4 linked regions of the Homo sapiens genome follow. The protein of the gene in region 3 purifies or fractionates together with the protein of the main gene of each other region. This does not show direct contact. Each region holds a gene or a part of one and is shown on either strand. Other genes may lie near its edges.

The links. The genes of interacting proteins can lie anywhere in the genome.
Region 1: the proteins of DERA (region 3) and DCPH1 fractionate together in Homo sapiens (co-fractionation; one large-scale study listed by BioGRID). This does not show direct contact.
Region 2: the proteins of DERA (region 3) and ASPSCR1 fractionate together in Homo sapiens (co-fractionation; one large-scale study listed by BioGRID). This does not show direct contact.
Region 4: the proteins of DERA (region 3) and ATIC fractionate together in Homo sapiens (co-fractionation; one large-scale study listed by BioGRID). This does not show direct contact.

Annotation. Positions count from the first base shown.
Region 1 is NC_000006.12:151,465,966-151,469,465, reverse strand, and holds part of DCPH1 (damage-control phosphatase ARMT1), read right to left. Parts: intron 1,124-3,500; coding exon 356-1,123; 3' UTR 1-355. UniProt on the Homo sapiens protein: Metal-dependent phosphatase that shows phosphatase activity against several substrates, including fructose-1-phosphate and fructose-6-phosphate.
Region 2 is NC_000017.11:81,984,129-81,987,628, reverse strand, and holds part of ASPSCR1 (tether containing UBX domain for GLUT4), read right to left. Parts: intron 2,123-3,500; coding exon 2,022-2,122; intron 1-2,021. UniProt on the Homo sapiens protein: Tethering protein that sequesters GLUT4-containing vesicles in the cytoplasm in the absence of insulin. Modulates the amount of GLUT4 that is available at the cell surface. Enhances VCP methylation catalyzed by VCPKMT.
Region 3 is NC_000012.12:16,035,607-16,037,881, reverse strand, and holds the end of DERA (deoxyribose-phosphate aldolase), read right to left. Parts: intron 1,651-2,275; coding exon 1,501-1,650; intron 1,193-1,500; coding exon 1,136-1,192; 3' UTR 501-1,135; downstream 1-500. UniProt on the Homo sapiens protein: Catalyzes a reversible aldol reaction between acetaldehyde and D-glyceraldehyde 3-phosphate to generate 2-deoxy-D-ribose 5-phosphate. Participates in stress granule (SG) assembly.
Region 4 is NC_000002.12:215,318,559-215,322,058, reverse strand, and holds part of ATIC (bifunctional purine biosynthesis protein ATIC), read right to left. Parts: intron 2,395-3,500; coding exon 2,328-2,394; intron 1-2,327. UniProt on the Homo sapiens protein: Bifunctional enzyme that catalyzes the last two steps of purine biosynthesis.

The sequences.
Region 1 (3,500 bases), on a different chromosome or scaffold from region 3:
AGAACAAGGTTAACTAACTAAAAGCAGAACTCACTTATTTTTTGCTCCCTAGCCAATTAAAAATAAGTTCATTAAAAGCACTTGAAATTATATATTTAACCTGAAAAAAAGTTGCTAAAATTCCAATATAAATGTAAATATCTTTAACTTGCTTAACCCAGCTATCCCCAAAACAGTGTAGTGGGGCAAAATGTTCAAAAGAAAAATCATCCAGTGCACGTAGATGGGCACCAAGAAGCTAAGCTTCCCTGAGCGCGTACAGAGCCGCCAGGCGACTCAATTCACGTGCTCCTTTTCTGGGGATGAAAAGGTGCTCACCAGATCTTTCTATGCAACTGAGAGCTCCTAAATCAAGTCAAAGGGGACCATCGTACTGAAATATTCCATATTTTCCAGTGGTCCACCAGCTGGGCTCAGAGGCCAGGAGCTGTTCCCCTTGCCCAGGCTGCAGACCAACCTGAATTTCAGCTTTTAATGTTCTTATGGTACAGAGTGGTGCAGGATGGAAGCCATTCAGAGCCTGATGAAATGGAACAGAAAACTCCCATTTTCTGTCACCTGTCAACTTCCTGTAATTCAAATCACCCTTGAATAAAATTAAATGTGCCTTCTGTAGTTCAGCATATAAGTCAGGTGCAACCTGAGGCATTGCACAGTACTCATGAGGCAGAGTCCAAAATATATGATTGTGGTAAACCCATTTACCCATTTTAATATACTCTTCCCAGTCAGCCCCACACTTGGACATCCACTTATGATTACTGTGTTTTACCTGTTCAATTAACCAATTAAAATCATGTATAGTAGTATCAGAAACAAACCATGGAATTGTTTTTCCATAAAAATGAACCTCAGTAGCCAGTTCAGAGGACAACAAGAAGTCGGCTAATATTAAATCTGTAACAAGCTCAAATCCAGAATTATCGAGAACAATATACACTCTAGTAGCAGAAGCTTTTTCTCTTGTTTTCTTGCAATTGCTAAGCAATGACCAAAGATGTTCCATATCATTCAATAAAATGAAAGGTTTTAGGTCTTCCAATGAATTTAGTACATTGGTATTCTGAGAACTACTTTCTCCACCTGAGAGAGACAGATCACACTTATTTCCCCACAGTGAAATCTGAAAAAGAAAAAGTACAAAATATTCACCCTTCTTCTGAATAGCCAACAAAACTCCATTATGTAGCGGGATGGGGGGACATTGCTAAAAAACTACTAAATATCTACAAAACTCTTTACATGACCATCAAATCTATACTTTCTCTAACAATGCACAAAAATTATTTCACATGATGCTGTATTAACAAGATAAAACTGAAATTTTTAATTCATCAGTATGTAATGGACTTAAAAAAACTGGTTTCAATTATTTCAGCACTCACATTGTTTATTCAGAATAAAAGTTTTTGCAGCTTGCAGATATTAGAACATCATCGGATGTGTGAAGAGAGGCTCAAAGTTGCCCATATAATCCAGAGTCAAGAGAAGAAATAAAAGTTTATTTTTTCCTCCTTGGCCCTGCAGAACTGTCCAGTTTCTTTCACTAATTGCATAACCTTAGGACGTGACACCTCTCTGGGATTTGGTTCTCTCATTTGTAAAATTTAAAAAACTGAACAAAGTGATATCTAAAGACGCTACTTTTTAAACAAGGTCATGTTAACTAAAGACCCATTGTAATCAATTATCTTATTCAGCTTTAAATTGAATTAATACTCAATTACATTTTGTAGAAAAACAGTATGTAGGCCTATTTTTTTTTAAGCCATAAAATTACACGTTTAGGACTTCCAGCTCGACCTGGGTTCAAACTCAGCATCTTCAGTTTATGATCATCAACAAATTACTTAAGCTCTCTAAGGCTCAAGTCCTGCAACTGAAAAACGAGATACTAGTACTTACCTCACAGAATTATTGTGAGAATTGATATAATGCATGTAAATAATGTACCAAATACCTGGCATATAGAAGTACTCAATAAACACTAGCCAAAACAGACTCTACTCTCATTTGTGATTTTTTTTTTAATAAAGATGGGGTCTCACTATGTTGACCAGGCTAATTTCCATCTCCTGGCCTCCAGCAATCCTCCTGCCGTGGCCTCCCAAAATGCTGAGATTATAAGCATGAGCCACCTTGTCAGGCCCTCATTTGTGATTTAAAATAAGGAGAATGCATGTTCCAACCAATAGGGTTTTGTTTTTTTTTTTTTTGAGATAGAGTCTCCTCTGTCACCGAGGCTGGAGTGCGGTGGTGCGATCTTGGCTCACTGCACCTCTGCCTCACGGGTTCAAGCTTTTCTCCTGCCTCAGCCTCCCAAGTAGCTGGGATTACAGCCGCCCACCACCACGCCTGGCTAATTTTTTGTATTTTTAGTAGAGATGGGGTTTTACCATGTTAGCCAGGCTGGTCTCAAACTCCTGGCCTCAGGTGATCTGCCCACCTCGGCCTCCCAGAGTGCTGGGATTACAGGTGTGAGCCACCATGCCCGGCCGAACAGTATTATTTTAAAAAGAGATAAATGAATAAATTTTTTTTAAAAAAAAGGCTTAAATAATAACTAAAGTGTCCAAGGTCACCTTTTTCTAGAGTTTCCTGAAGAAATTCATACAATGGTGTCCACGATGGCCTTCAGCGACTGAGAGCAGGTTCTGTGCTAGCCTCCTGCACTTTCCCTTCACACCGTCTTCCAGTTTGTAATGGCATAGCTCTTTGTGCAATTACTTCATTGTCTATATTCCCTCAAGATTACAAGTTTTGATAGGGAGGATCAGCCTGTTCTTGTTTTACCACTACGTGCCCAGCACCTAGAATGGCATTTGACACAGTAGCCCCAGAAATGTGTGTGTCGACAGTGGGAGAGTGCTATGACTTTTGAAAGAGATCAACATTCTCTGAAAACGAGAATGTTTTCAAGCTTCCCTTGAAACGTTAACCTGTTGCTCACTGCGGACACCAAATGGAGGCAACTCTGGCCCCCTTCACTTGGGAGCACAGTGACAGTGTGAAGAAGTTGTTAGCTAAATCAGATGACAGAAAATAGATGCATGCTCATTCTTCTTCATAGTTTATTATACTATGGGACAAAGAACACATTCAAAGAAGATGATTCCCTGAAAGAATGGGCTAGCTAGGAGTCAAGAACTAGCATGCCAGTCTTTTTTTTTTTAATTCCAAGGCTAAGCATAAGGCAGAGTTAACAGGAAAAAACAAAAAACAAGGTTTATTAGTTAACAATGTCCTGGGCCAGGCAAGGTGGCTCATGCCTATAATCCCAGCACTTTGGGAGGCCAAGGTGGGCAGATCACCTGAGGTCAGGAGTTCAAGACCAGCCTGGCCAACATGGCGAAACCCAGTCTCTACTAAAAATACAAAAATTAGCCAGGTGTGGTGGCATACGCCTGTAATTCCAGCTACTCAGGAGGCTGAGGCAGGAGAATTGCTTAAACCCGGGAGACGGAGGTTGCAGTGAGCTGAGATCGTGCCACTGCACTACA
Region 2 (3,500 bases), on a different chromosome or scaffold from region 3:
AATGCCGGCCCCACCTCTCCAGACACCCTCGGCCCCTCCCCAGTGGCAGCCCCAGGCCACTCTGGGCCATTTCCTTACCTCCATCCCCATCTGAGGACTGACAGCACAGCCAGGGAGGACGGCCCTCACCAAGCACCTGTGCCTGTGGGAGCACTGGATTCTGTTCACGCCCGGGGGCACCGCCCGGCCCAGGGGCATTTCCTTCCAGACGTTCATCTTTCCTGACTTCTGTTCCCCGCGCTGTTTGGTTTTCTTCTTGCCCTCTGCCACTCTCGTCTCAGGAAGCAGCACAGAGCCAGGGCGCCGGGATCCCTGCTTCTCACCCAGTGCCCACACAGCGCCTGGGGCTGCCTGCCTCCCTGCCCGGCGCCACTCCTGGCTCGGGTCCCGCTCACCCCTGCCCGTGGCTTCGCTTTGCTCTCAGGCTCCGTCATCTCCTGCCTCGGGTCCCGCTCACCCCTGCCCGTGGCTTCGCTTTGCTCTTAGGCTCTGTCACCTCCTGCCTCGGGTCCCGCTCACCCCTGCCCGTGGCTTCGCTTTGCTCTTAGGCTCCGTCATCTCCTGCCTCGGGTCCCGCTCACCCCTGCCCGTGGCTTTGGCTTTGCTCTTAGGCTCCGTCACTGTTGTCTGAGTTCCGTTTTGGGAGGGAGAATTCCGTGCTCGTGCTTAACCCGCTGCCATCTCCAGGGGCCTCCATTCACCCCGACAGCCACTGGGGTGGCTTCCATCCCCATGACCACTGAGACCCGACGTGCAGACCTCAGCGCTCTCACCCACGAACGCAACACCCGTGCCATGCAGCGCGGCACTACTGTCAGACGGGAGCAGGCCCAGCCCTGGGGCCACCAAGCGCGCCCAACGCACAGTCACCTTCCCAGCGCCCGACGCGCGGTCACCTTCCCACAGGCCCTATGCTCGGTCCTCAAGACATGAACTCACCCCATCCACACACCAGCCGGGGCACAGGTGAGGAAACTGAGGCCCGGGGAGGGCGAGAACCCCCTGGCTCACAGCAAACCCCAGCCCCAAGTCCCTTCCATTCTGCTGAGCCTTTTACTGTGGACAGAGACTTCCAGCCAACGATGAAAAGACCCAAATTGACAAAGCACCAATTTTTACACATTCAGGAACAACGTTTAAACCATTAACCGACAGAAACTGATACACATCAATTACTTATTTTTATTTATTTATTTTTTTGAGACAGAGTCTCGTTCTGTTGCCCAGGCTGGAGTGCAGCAGTGCGATCTCGGCTCACTGCAACTGCCTCCACGGCTCAAGTGATCCTCCCACCTCAGCCTCTGGCATAGCTGGGACCACAGGCACGCACCACCATGCACTATGCCTGGCCTAACATTTCTATTTTTTGTAGAGAAGGGGTTTCACTATGTTGCCGAGGCTAGTCTTGAACTCATGAGCTCAAGCGATTCGCCAGCCTCGGCCTTCCAAAGTGCAAGCCACTTTGCCCAGCCACTGTGCCCAGCCACTGTGCCCAGCCATCCAATTACTATTAGGAAGATTTTCTGGTGGGGCACAGGAGCTCACACCTGTAATCTCAACGCTTTGGGAGGCTGAGATGGGAGAATTTCTTGAGCCCATGGGTTCAAGAGCAGCCTAGGTGACCAACATAGTGAGACCCTGCCTCTTAAAAAAAAGAGACCTTATGATCCCATCCAGGGGAATCAAGCATGGGGAGCCCTGCCCCCAGCACCGAACGTCTCCCCTTAGTGCTCACCAGGCCCCCACAAGGACAGAAGCACATTCCTGCTCTTCTAGGTGGGCAAGGCTGGGCCGCTGGGCCCAGGAAACTCAGAACGATGAGCTGTGACCAGCCATCCCCGAGGCTGCTGCTCATGAACCGGCAGCCCACACACCCCTCCTCTACAAAGGACTGCAAAGTGCCAAGAGGCACCACAGGCCAGCACAGAGCTTGGGTGTCCAGCTCTGAACCAGACCCAGTAACCACAGCAGCTTCCCCAGCAAACAGGGTAGGGAAGAGCCCCCAGCCCACTGATGCTCACCTGATCTGTGGAAAATGGCTGAGAAGCTCCCAGAGGGTCTGGCCTGAACAGAAAGAGTCCTGCAACCTCGAGCCATCGTCCAGCTGCAAAGCGATGCGAACCTGGAGGGTATAAGACATGAGAAACTTCCTTAGGAAGAAAAGCAACTATTCCTTCTAAATCCCAGACTGATTCTCCAGACACAGAGAGGGTGACTGCCCCGCCCTGGCCTCCAGGGAGAGGCTGACCCCCACGGAGAAGGCTACCCTCCTATTCACTCTGGAGTGAGGGCCTTGGAGGCTCCCCGGCAGGGCTGCACCAGCATGCGTGTGTGCATGTGAGTGTGCAGGTATGTGCAGGTGTGCGTGCGTGTGTGCATATGTGTGTGTGGGTGTGTGCGGGGGTGTGCAGTTGTGTGCAGGTATGTGTGTGGATGTGTGCATGTTGGTGTGTGGGTGTGTGCAGGTGTGCGCATGTGCGTGCAGATGTGCGTGTGTGTGCATGTTTACATGCAGGTGTGTGCGGGTATGTGCGCAGATGTGTAGGTGTGTGTGTACAGGTGTGTGCGTGGGTGTGTGTGGGGGGGAGGTGTGTGCATGTTGGTGTGGGCGGTGTGTGCAGGTGTGTGGGGGGGTGTGCACGCAGGTGTGTGGGTGTGTGCAGGTGTGTGGGGTGTGTGCGGGTGTGTGCGGGTGTGGGGGTGTGTGCACGTTGCTGTAGGGGTGTGTGTGGGTGTGTGTGGGGGGTGTGTGTGCGGGGGTGTGCAGGTGTGTGTGGGGTGTGTGCAGGGGTGTGTGGGGGTGTGTACGGGTGTGCGGGTATGTGGGTGTGTGGGGGTGTGTGTGGGTGTGTGTGGGTACATGCAGGCGCCACAGGAGTGAACTGTGTTGGAGACAGTCCTCGTGTCCCAGTGGGGGCTTCAAAAGATTGCAGCTCCACCGAACCTGACTGCAGCCTCAGGACAGACACTGAGCTAAGCTGCTCCCAGATTCCTGACCCTCAGAAGCCACATGAGATGGTAAATGTTTGCTGCTCTTTTTTTTTTTTTTGAGACAAAGTCTCACTCTGTCGCCCAGGCTGGAGTGCAGTGGCAGCACAATCTCGGCTCACTGCAAGCTCCGCCTCCCGGGTTCACGCCATTCTCCTGCCTCAGCCTGCTGAGTAGCTGGGACTACAGGCATCCGCCACCACCCACGGCTAATTTTTGTATTTTTAGTAGAGACGGGGTTTCATTATGTTGGCCGGCTGGTCCCAAACTCCTGACCTCAGGTGATCTGCCCGCCTCGGCCTCCTAAAGTGCTGGGATTACAGGCTGCCCTTGCGGCATCCATGCAGCGCTTTCGGCTCTAACATTCTGGGCAATTCTATGAGCAGGTGGTCAGGCTGGTGGGTGAATGCTGCTGACACCCTGAGCCAGGGAAGGCACAACTGACCCCAGAAAGAAAGAAAAACTTCCACATGAAGAATGACGTGGGCGGGGCGCAGAGGCTCACGCCTGCA
Region 3 (2,275 bases):
GAGCAAAAAAGCCAGCCACCATGAGGCAGATTACCGTCCTCTCAGCTGATGGGGAGCTCTGTTTATGTACACCTGACTATGTGTACCGAGGGACAGGGAGACATGGGGGTGACTGCACGCACTTGGGAGCCAGCCTGTCTGCTTGGGCTTGATTTTTAACTCTGCTAATTTTGAGCAACCTTTGGCACGTTGCTTAAACTCTTTGTTCCTCATTCCCCTGTCTGTATAAAAGGATGTTTACATGAGTACTTACTGCTATAAGAAGCAAAACCCTTAACTGTATTTACCTTACTATTATGAGGATTAAATGAGAGTTAAATAAATTGATATATGTAAAGCTTATTACACAGCAAGTGCTGTTAATATCTACTGTTTTCCTCCATTCACTATACCAGAAAATTTGAAGTTTCAGAACACATACATAAGTTGCATTCATTAATAACATACTGGGGTGTTTTACAGATATATACCCAAGGAATCAACTAGAGAGATTCAGAGACTCACTGATCAAACCTCTTTTTATGTTTAATGGATTATTTTTTCATTATGTATTGTAACAATTTTTAAGTTTTTTAAAAAAATAAACTATAGGAACTTTATTATTTTAAAAATTTTAATGATATTCATCGTTGTATATGACAATGTCAGAAATTTCATTAGGACAACAATTAATAAAAGCGCCTATCCACGGCAAAAATGAAAGATGAGTTTTCACAGCAGGAAATTAGTGCTGAATCAGTGACTCCTGAAGTCGTTACAGCAGCGCTTGCGAGATGTTGCATTTTCCTCTGCTAGGGCACACTGCTTGGGCGGTTTAATATTGTTTTTTTCTCCCTTAGAATTTGATGTTATCAAAGCTACCATTAACATTTTACTTAAAGTTTTTAGGAGAAACTCTTCACAAAGTTAATAGTGCAGATCTTCTAGTAATTAAGATCATTTCAGATGTGCCTGAAATGAGTACCACATGTGGATGAGTTTGCTTTTTCCATTCCATTAAGTTCGGTAGAAATTTTAAAGAGAGGAATGCCAGTTACCTACTGCCCAATTTTTTAATTAAATAATTTTAGCAATTACGTAGAAAAATAATTTTTAAACATTGTCGTAAAGAACTTTTCTGGAACTGGTGACTGATTTAAGACATTGGAAGATCATGATAAGCTGCATATCTTCCAGTCACATGATGGTAAATCTGTGAGGAAAAGCAGAGTTTAATTAACAATCATTCTATAATTATACACATCAGTTAATAATTATACTATCAAATAATAATAAATAGTTTTAATGAACATTTCATTAGAAAGCCTCACTAGTATGTGCTTCAGCAGAATCTCCACCCTACTCACTTCTGATGGCGGTTTGCTTGGAAGAAAAGGTAGAGGATTGGGTAGGATGAGGTCAATCAGATGAGTTTTTATCTCCAGTTCTCAATTTGACTTTTCAATTCCTTTCTCAAAAAACACTTGTTAATTTATTCCAAAGACAGAGATGATTACTCACCTGCCTCTCAATGTCCGAGAGCAGAGTACTGGCACCTATTCGAAAGAGTTCTGGCTTCAGCCACTCATCTCCAAGCTCCTCCTTTACAAGAGAGAGCCAAGCAAGGGAATCCTTTGCACTGCGGATGCCTCCTGCTGGTTTAAACCCTATCTAAATGGGAAGGCAGAGAATAGAACAATCTTTATTGTTATTGGATTTCTTTTAAAAATAGTACTATGTTTATCAGAGTCTTGATTCTCTCTCTCCCTCTTTTGTTGAAAAAAAATCTTTTCACTTCATCCAGTGAAAGGGCTTAGATCAGTGACTCATGCTCATTCACACTACAAAACAACTTTTCCAAGATTTTTGGAAGAATGTCACTACTTCCAAACAGACACTAGTGAGGGTTAATAACCCTCATTAACATTTCACTTATTGGAAAGTCATAAACCTCCACCATCTAGACTATAGCTGTGAACCTGGAATAAACAAGGAAGGTGTCAATAAATAGGAAAACAGATCACAAAAGCAAAGCCCACTCATTCTACATTTCCACAAGTAAGCCTGTAGAGTCACTTCTCAGCCTTCATCTTGAGGTTCAAAAGACACGTGCATTTAAAATCAAAGGACAGAATCAGCAAGGCTGCAAGGTTACCCTAACCAAACTGGCAGCAAAAAAGCAAGGAAAGTTGACAGTTGTTTTAACCAATTTAACTGTGGGATTTTTTTTCTAAGTTGCAGGCACACACAGTTCTAAAAAGCTGGCAGACCAGTTACATAAGGGCAGTAGAAAAAC
Region 4 (3,500 bases), on a different chromosome or scaffold from region 3:
TGTGGTGGCGGGCACCTGTAACCCCAGCTACTCATGAGACTGAGGCAGAATCGCTTGAATCCGGGAGGTGGAGGTTGCAGTGAGCCAAGATGACGCCACTGTGCTCCAGCCTGGGCGAGAGTAAGACTCCGTCTCAAAAAAAAGAAAAAACTTGTGATGATCAAAGGAAACCATCAAGAAAGGCTAACACAATCCATAGAATGAGAGGAAATAAACTTACAACTCAATAATAAACAGATAAATACCTCAACTAAAAATGGACAAGAGGTCTCAACAGACATTTCTCCAAAGGAGGTAAACAACTGGCTAGGAAGCACATCCAACGGTGTTCCACATTATTTGGAAAGCAAATTATAACCACAATGAGATGCCACTTCAGAACCCCTAGAATGACTAGAATCAAAAAGACAGATAGTAACGTTGATGAGGATGTGGAGAAACTGGAGCCCCATCCAGCACACTGCTGCTGGAAATGTAAAATGGTGCAGCACTCTGAAATACAGGGTCGCAGTTCCTCAAAAGCTAAACATAGTTACCATATGACCAAGGAATTCCACTCCTAGGTATATACCCCAATGAAACGAATGTGTATGTCCACACAAAAACTTATACACAAATATTTATAGCTGCATTATTCATAATATTCAAAAAGTAGAAACAACCCAAATGTCCATCAACAAATGAACTGATAAACAACAGGGTATGACCACACAATGGATTATTTTTCAGCACTAAAAACGAAATGAACTATTGATACTATGCTATAACATGGATAAACCTTGAAAACATGCTAAGTGAAAGAAGCCAGGAACAAAAAAACCATATATTGTTAGATTCTATTTATATGAAAATGTCCACTACAGGCAAATCAGACACGTAACAATTGGTGGTTGCCGAGGCTGGAGGACGTTGGGGAAATGGAGAATAAATGCGTATGGGTATAGGGTTTAGGGTGGGGGTGATGAATATGTTTTAATATTGGATGTGGCAATTAATATGGTTTGGATGTGTGTCCTCTCCAAATCTCATTTTGCAATGTGATCCCCAATGTTGGAGGTGGGGCCTGGTGGGAGATGATTGGGTCACGGGGGAGATCCCTTATGAATGGCTTGGTGCCCTCCCCATAATGAGTCCTCACTCTGAGTTCATGTAGAGCTGGTTGTTTAACAGAGCCGGGCAGGCCGGGCGTGGTGGCTCACACCTAATCCCAGCACTTTGGGAGGCCGGGGTGGGTGCATCATTTGAGGTCAGGAGTTCCAAGAGCAGCCTGACCAACATGGTGAAACCCCATCTCTACTAAAAATAGTAAAAATGAGTTGGGCGTGGTGACAAACGCCTGTAATCTCAGCTACTCAGGAGGCTGAGGCAGGAGAATCACTTGAACACAGGAGGCAGAGGTTGCAGTGAGCCAAGGTCATGCCACTGAACTCCAACCTGAGCAACAGAGCGAGACCCTGTCTCAAAATAAAATTAAATTAAATTAAGAATAAAAGTTAAAAAGTAAAAGAGCTGGGCAACTCCTCCTCTCCCTCTCTCTTGCTTCTTCTCTCATGGGATATGCCAGCTCCCCCTCTGCTTTCCACTGTGATTATAAACTTCCTGAGGCCCTCACCAGAAGTTGATGCTGGCACCACACTTCTTGTACTGTCTATAGAATCACGAGCCAAAATAAACCTGTTTTCATAAATTACCCAGCTTCTAGTATTCCTTTATAGCAATGCAGAACAGACTAACACAGTAATGGTTGCACAACTTCTGTGAACCACTGATTTGTACATTTTAAATTGGTGAGTTGTATGGTATGTGGATTAGATCTCAATAAAGCTGTTACGTATATTTAAGAGAAACAGCCAGTATCTTTATGCAAATAACTCAGTTAGTTGTGCAAGTTGATAATTCCTAATATGAAAACCTGAAATCTGAAATGCTCCAAAATCTGAAACTTTTTGAGCGTCAACATGACACTTGGAGGAAATGCTCACTGAAGCATTTCGGATTTCTGAGGGACGCTCAACTGGCATGTTACCTGCAAATATTCCAAAATCTGAAGAAATCTGAAATCCAAGACACTTCTGGGTCCCAAGCATTTCAGATAAGGGATACTCAACCTATACATACTAAGATTTAGATTGTAACTTCCTAAAAAACTTCAGTATGTATTTTGGTATATAAATCTGGCCAAACCAAAATGCTTACACACATACAAAGTCACACAGAAGGTACGCAGTAAAGGTTTATAGTGAGTAAGAAAACACAGGGACACCAGGTTTGGCATAGTCTTTGTCGTTGGTTCGTAATGTGTTAAAAGTTTAATTTCAGGTTTTTACCTTATAAGATTGAAATCAAGTCTGGCCATGTCAGCATTATCTTCTGGAATATTACGAGCTAGGATTCCTAATTTAAAAAAGTTAAACAAAGTCATTAGCTTCAAAAAACAAGTCAGATTAAGGAATGTCTTTCAACATAGTGTCTTCAATCAAATTAAATCCCATTGATTAAAAAAAAAATTTATTTTTTTGAGATGGTCTCACTCTATCGCCCAGGCTGGATTGTAGTGGCGTAATCACAACTCACTATAGCCCTGACCTCCAGGGCTCAAGTGATCCTCCTACCTCAGCCTCCCAAGTAGCTGGGACTACAGGAATGCATCACCACACCCAGCTGGTCTTTTCAATTTTTTAAAGAGAAGGGGGGTGTTGCCATCTTGCCCAGGGTGATCTTAAACTCCTGGGCTCAAGCGGTTCTCCTGTCTCAGCTCTCCAAGTGCTGGGACTACAGGCAAGAGCCACCATGCCCAGCATAATATTCTTAATTAAAGAATATCAAACATGTAGTTGGGGAGTTATCAAACAAAAAAATTAGGATTAACAGATATATCTGGCTGGCCACAGTGGCTCATGTCTGTAATACCAGCACTTTGGGAGGCTAAGGTGGGGGATCGCTTGAGCCCAGGTGTTCGAGACCAGCCTGGGCAACAAGGTGAGACCCCGTCTCTATAAAAAATACAAAAATTAGCTGGGTGTGGTGGCACATGCCTATAGTCCCAGCTACTTGGGAGGCTGAGGTGGGAGAACTGCTTGAGCCTGGGAAGCAGACAGAGGCTGCAGCGAGCCATGATCGCACCACTGCACTCCAGCCTGGGCAAGAGTATAATCCTGTCTCAAAAAAAAAAAAGAGAGATATATTTAAAAATCTTTTTCTTCAGTTCTTGATCCCAGTTTCTTGAGCAATAAAATGTAAAAAAGGTAAAAGGAATTTTACAAAACTGTTGCTAGTTCCAGAACAGTCTATGCGTTTCTGTAAGTCAATGGCTTGTCTGATGATCTGTAGCCATTCAGCTTTATTCACCAAATTGTACCACAACTGACAAACTAGGAGGATACCAGTTTCTTGCCGTTTCGGTTTATATACAATTCATTCTTAGGTGAACGAACAAATGTAAAGCACTTTGAAAAAAAAAATTCCTTTGCAAGTCAGTTACGCTGTGATGCTTTCTTCTA